Linked DNA regions of Homo sapiens. The protein of the gene in region 1 purifies or fractionates together with the protein of each later gene. This does not show direct contact. Each region holds a gene or a part of one and is shown on either strand. Other genes may lie near its edges. The genes, in order: RXYLT1 and GALNT12.

Region 1 (3,411 bases):
CTCTGAAATCATGCACTTACCCTTGGGTTTCTCCCCCTACTTCTTCGAAGAGTTTAGCTCCTGGTACTCTCTAGCTCTGTCTGACACTACTCTGTTCTCAATTCTTAGTGACTGGCAAATCTACATAGATGGTCTTTCTGTCATTTTGGTCTTTGCAGTTCCTTCACCTCCCCTCCTCCAATAATCTGGGCTTCCACCTGACCTCAGCCATTCTCTCTCATGGTTATTTCCTAGACTTTGTCATTACACATACTGCACCTTCTGAACATGATCTCAAGTCCCAGCATCTCTTTCTACAACCACCATCATCTGTCATTCCAGCTCATTCCGTGTAATAATCTGACTCTGACAATTCAGCTGGCACTTAGAATCTATTGTTCCTACTACCCTTTTGTTGTCCTTCACTCCCCTTTCTTCATTTTATTCTTCACCTAACTTAAATTTCATTGTCAATCATAATTGCCTATACCTTCAGCTCCCTAATTCCCTAATCTGGCAAACCATAACTCTGGTTAAATCCAGCTCTCTGCCTACTCCATGCCTGCACCCATGCAACTACACATAATTGGAGAAAGGTGCTAATTGACCTTTATTTAAACACGTGACTTTGAACCTCAGGTGCCCAGCAGTCTTATATTTCCCTTGTCCATATATTCTCCCACTCTCCTAGAAGGCTGTTTTATACCTTCTTCTCTCCTACACTCTAACACCTCCGCCTTTCTTACTTTATGACCCTATTGCTTATTTCACTGAGAATAGTCAGGAGAAAGCATCTATCTTTTTTTTTTTCTTTTGAGACTGAGTTTCACTCTTATTGCCCAGGCTGTAGTGCAGTGACAGGATCTCGGCTCACTGCAACCTCTACCTCCCAGGTTCAAGCGATTCTTCTGCCTCAGCCTCCCGTGTAGTTGGGATTACAGGTGCACGCCATCACGCCCGGCTAATTATTGTATTTAGTAGAGACGGGGTTTTACCTTGTTGGCCAGGTTGGTCTCGAACTCCTGACCTCAGGTGATCCACCCGCCTTGGCCTCATGAAGTGCTGGGATTACAGGCGTGAGCCACCGCACCCAGCCGCGTCTATCTTTCTTTACTGATCTTTCAGTTTCTACCCTTGCCCCTGTACAGTCCATTCTCAACACAATAGCCAGATTGATTCTGATGAAACCTACATCACGTCATGTCACCCCATGATCAAAAGCCTGCATGATAGAGTCCCGTGTGACCATTCAGACTTTATCTTCTGCGCCTGTTCCCTCAGTTACCCTACCTCAGCCACCCTGGCTTCCCCGCAGCTCCTTGAACATGCCAGGCACATGCTGTCTCATGGCCTTCACTCTTGCTTGCTCTTTTATCCCGCCAGATCTACGTGGCTTGCTCCTTCATCCCCAACTCTGTGCTCAGATGCTGCCGCAGTAAGACAGTCCCTCATCACTTATTTAAGATTGCAACCCTACCCCCTTAGAAACTCCTGCTCTACTTACTCCTTTGCTCTTTTCTCACAGTATTCTACCCCATCTAAATAATTTACTGACTTCACTTGGTCACTATCCATCTCCACCACTAGAACTAGAATATATGCTCCATGAGGGCAAGGTAGGGAAGAGAGGACCTAGCACTCCCAAAGTATCGGTTGAATTATTATTATCCATTCAGAAGTGTTACGGTGACTCCTAGATTTTATAAATGTACAACTGTAAAATGTTCCAATTCTTCAACATTTTTAAGAAATCTGTTTGGGCCAGGATTTTGGATATCTCTTATGCCTATCATCTCTATAAAGTTTCACCATTTCCTGAAACTGATTTTATTAAAAGATAAGGTATTTTTGTTCACAAACTATATACTTAGTAAAGTGAAAACTACAGTTGTTTTTCTGATTTTCTAGCTGGCAGCCTCAGGAAACAAATGAAAGTCTTAAGAATTACCAAGATGCCTTGCTTCAGAGTGATCTCACATTGTGCCCGGTCGGAGTAAACACAGAATGCTATCGAATCTATGAGGCTTGCTCCTATGGCTCCATTCCTGTGGTGGAAGACGTGATGACAGCTGGCAACTGTGGGAATACATCTGTGCACCACGGTGCTCCTCTGCAGTTACTCAAGTCCATGGGTGCTCCCTTTATCTTTATCAAGAACTGGAAGGAACTCCCTGCTGTTTTAGAAAAAGAGAAAACTATAATTTTACAAGAAAAAATTGAAAGAAGAAAAATGTTACTTCAGTGGTATCAGCACTTCAAGACAGAGCTTAAAATGAAATTTACTAATATTTTAGAAAGCTCATTTTTAATGAATAATAAAAGTTAATTATCTTTTTGAGCTAACATGTGATTTTTAAAATCATTTTGACTACTGGGTGTATAAATGTGTTTGTGTGTGTATGTATTTATAGATGTTCTTTAAGGTACCCTTGAAAACTCTACATTATGTATGCCACATAATGACATTTCAGTCAGTGGTAGACTACATATATGATAGTGGTCCCATAAGATTATAATGGAGCTGAAAAATTTCTATCGCCTAGTGATGTCATAGCCTAGTGATGACATATGTATTGCAATACATCACTCACGTGTTTGTGGTGATACTGGTGTAAACAAATCTATTGCACTGCCAGTCAAGTAAAAGTACAGCAATTATGTCCTGTACATAATATTTAATAATGACAATAAATGACTATGTTACTGGTTTATGTATTTACTATACTATACTTTTTACAATTTGTATTAGTTCTTGCATTGCTATGAATAAATGCCTGAGATTGAGTAATTTATAAAGAAGAGAGGTTTAATTGGCTCACAGTTCAACAGACTGTACGGGAAGCATGAAAACTTCAGGAAACTTAACAATCCTGGCAGAAAGCGAAGGGGAAGCAGACATGTCTTCACGTGGCCAGAGCAGAGGGAAAAGGGGGTGGGTGCTACACACTTTTAAACAACCAGATCTCACAAGCACTCACTACCAGGAAAGCAGCACCATAGGGGAAATCCACCTCCATGACCCAATCTCCTCCCACCAGGCCCTGCCTCCAACACTGGGGATTACAATTCAACATGAGGTTTGGGTGAGGCACAGATCCAAACCATATCATCATTATTTTCGAGTGTACTACTTGTACTTATTAAAAAAAAAAAAAAAGTTAAACAGCCTCAGGCAGATCCTTCAGGAGGTATCCAGAAGAAGAAGGCATTGCTATCAGGAGATGGCAGCTCCATGCCTATTATTGCCCCTGAAGGCCTTGTGGTGGGGTGAGATGTGGAGGTGGAAGACAGTGATGTTAATGATTCTTACTCTGTCTAGGCTTAGGCTAATGCGGTTGTGTCTTCATTTTTAACAAAAAGTAAGAAAATAAAAGTAACAAATTTTTTAAATTTTTAAATAGACTAAAGTTTATAAAATAAGGATATAAAAAA
Region 2 (2,790 bases), on another chromosome or scaffold:
TGCTGCGATTACAGGCGTGAGCTACTGTGCCCAGCCTTGTATTTTCTTATGTAGGCCTAAAAACCTCTGAAATGTCATTTCTTGGATTCTACAAAACATGAGTTTGGATTTTTTTGAATGAAAAAAGTTCCATTTAGTGAACAGCACATCACAAAGGTTTTTCACTGATGTTGTTATTCACTCTGCCTGTTTGCTGCTCAGCCATGATTAAGTTCGTTGCATACAGCTTATAACAGAGAGGCAGAGGGAAAAGATAAACACCAGGCCTGAGAGAGAGACTTGCTGAGATAATTGAGCAAGGGCTGGCAGAAAGGAGAGAAGCAGGAGGTCATTAAAGAAGACCATCGTCTTTGGGGTTTGGGAATTGGCACAAGGCATATAACCCACTGATTCTCTGATGTGTGACAGGTGAGTAGCTCAGGCCAAGTGACTGGCTTCCTCATCCATCTGGTCTGTGGCTGAGCTGGGACTACAGCCAAGTTTCCACACTCTGTTTAAATACCTAAGAGAAAGAGATCACCCTGCACGGAATGAGTTGACCTAAGAGGAGTGAAAGAGATAAACAAAGGATCTTTGTTCCTGATTTCCCTGAAGGAAGCCAAATGCAATAGGGAGATGTAGGGTATGACACATGCCCAGAGCAGCCAGCAGGTGGCACCATCGGTCCTGTGAGAGGCAAGCGGGACGCAGCCTGTACAAGCCTGGTGCTGTGTCCCCGGGACAGTCCTGAGTTGCTGCGTTACACGGAAGACACTTACCCCTCAATAAATATTTCTGAAATGGTAAAAATCAGACCCTGATCTCTTTAAAACATGTCTTTAGGAAAAAGAGACTTTTCTGATGACTTGCCTGTCATTCTGTTATCTTTTGTAGGATGGATCTTTATTTCACGAACAGTCCAAGAAATGTGTCCAGGCTGCGAGGAAGGAGTCGAGTGACAGTTTCGTTCCACTCTTACGAGACTGCACCAACTCGGATCATCAGAAATGGTTCTTCAAAGAGCGCATGTTATGAAGCCTCGTGTATCAAGGAGCCCATCGAAGGAGACTGTGGAGCCAGGACTCTGCCCAACAAAGACTTAGCTAAGCAGTGACCAGAACCCACCAAAAACTAGGCTGCATTGCTTTGAAGAGGCAATCATTTTGCCATTTGTGAAAGTTGTGTTGGATTTAGTAAAAATGTGAATAAGCTTTGTACTTATTTTGAGAACTTTTTAAATGTTCCAAAATACCCTATTTTCAAAGGGTAATCGTAAGATGTTAACCCTTGGTATTTAGAAAATTAAAACCTTATAATATTTTTCTATCAAGATGTATATTTTACAGTCGTGCCTTTTACTCTCATTAGCAAAAAAGATAAAGATTTTATTTTGGTATTTACAAGAATTCCCAGGTACGAAGATATCTGCATGGGTGGAAATCAGGTTCAAGCAACGTACTTTGCATTAACTGATAATACCTCAGCTGCGGGGTTAAAGTTTTCCCAGTATAGAGAGACTGTCACTAGGAACATTGTATTGATTTATTCAGGTCATTGAGATCTTCTAGATGTATTTTAAAAAGAATGCTTTTTGGTTATGTGTTGCTACCACAGTTAACACTCCATAATGTTCATGTCAGCCAAAGAGGACTAACCAAAGCTGAAATCTCAGAGAACAATTTGCTTTACTAAGCTGAGTCAACTTGAGAGCGAACTTCTAACAATGCCGCACTGTAGTGTGGCTGGTTCTACCACTATGACTTTAAAACATGTTTATATCATTTTTAATTTTTATGATACGGTAGTGTCAGGGAGAAATGTAATGTTCTATATGAAATTCCTTTTTCAAGTTTGTTCATTAATAACAGTTATTAATTTAAATCAGCGTTAGAGTTTGTGCTGCTGCAACTGCTGTGAAAATTTCTCTGAGTAATTCTGATTTGTGAATGATCCCAGACCAACCCTGAGATTTTGTCAACCTGATTAAGTCAATATGAATGATTAAAAAGATGTGAGAACACTGACTGCAGATCTTTTTGTACTGTAAACCAAAAATAAAATTCTAGGGCCGGGTGCGGTGGCTCACGCCTATACTCCTAGCACTTTGGGAGGGCAAGGAGGGCAGATCACTTGAGGTCAGGAGTTCGAGACCAGCCTGGTCAACATGGCGAAACCCCGTCTCTATTAAAAATACAAAAATTAGCTGGACGTGGTGGCATGCGCCTGTAATCCCAGCTACTCCGGAGGCTGAGGCAGAAGAGTCTCCTGAACCCAGGAGGCGGAGGTTGCAGTGAGCCAAGATCGCGCCACTCTACTCCAGCCTGGGCGACAGAGCCAGACTTTGCCTCAAAAAATAAAAAATAAAATTCTGGGGTCCCCCATCTGATTGAATGGACTCCTCTCTTGGCCAAGAAGATCCCAAAAAAACCTGAACCTAGTTCAGAACTGAAAAACTAGTTCAGGCCATGATGAGAAGGGAGCAGTATCCAGACAAGCCTCATTACCCTCTCCTCCCTTTGGAGTTTAAAGACAACTGACTGGCATTCACGTTAAAACAGATCTCTTAAGATGGACCAAACAGACTCTTTGTAGCAACACATACCAAATTCCAACCTGACTGGTATAACATCCTATGACCCTGAAGGAAATCCAAGTATTTTGCCACAAAATATATTTCTTTAACATATTCTGAAATGGCCCTGCAAAGCTGTCTCTTGCGGGGGAAATTTACATTCTGTAGAGAATCTCCTTCCCTAACTAGGTCTTTTCAGGAGAGTCTGACACTTTTTAAGGTCTGATAAGAGACCTTCA

The links.
Region 2: the proteins of RXYLT1 (region 1) and GALNT12 purify together in Homo sapiens (affinity purification with mass spectrometry; one large-scale study listed by BioGRID and IntAct). This does not show direct contact.

What each region holds. Positions count from the first base shown.
Region 1 is NC_000012.12:63,806,788-63,810,198, forward strand, and holds the end of RXYLT1 (ribitol-5-phosphate xylosyltransferase 1), read left to right. Parts: intron 1-1,887; coding exon 1,888-2,305; 3' UTR 2,306-2,775; downstream 2,776-3,411. UniProt on the Homo sapiens protein: Acts as a UDP-D-xylose:ribitol-5-phosphate beta1,4-xylosyltransferase, which catalyzes the transfer of UDP-D-xylose to ribitol 5-phosphate (Rbo5P) to form the Xylbeta1-4Rbo5P linkage on O-mannosyl glycan.
Region 2 is NC_000009.12:98,848,079-98,850,868, forward strand, and holds the end of GALNT12 (polypeptide N-acetylgalactosaminyltransferase 12), read left to right. Parts: intron 1-873; coding exon 874-1,014; 3' UTR 1,015-2,003; downstream 2,004-2,790. UniProt on the Homo sapiens protein: Catalyzes the initial reaction in O-linked oligosaccharide biosynthesis, the transfer of an N-acetyl-D-galactosamine residue to a serine or threonine residue on the protein receptor.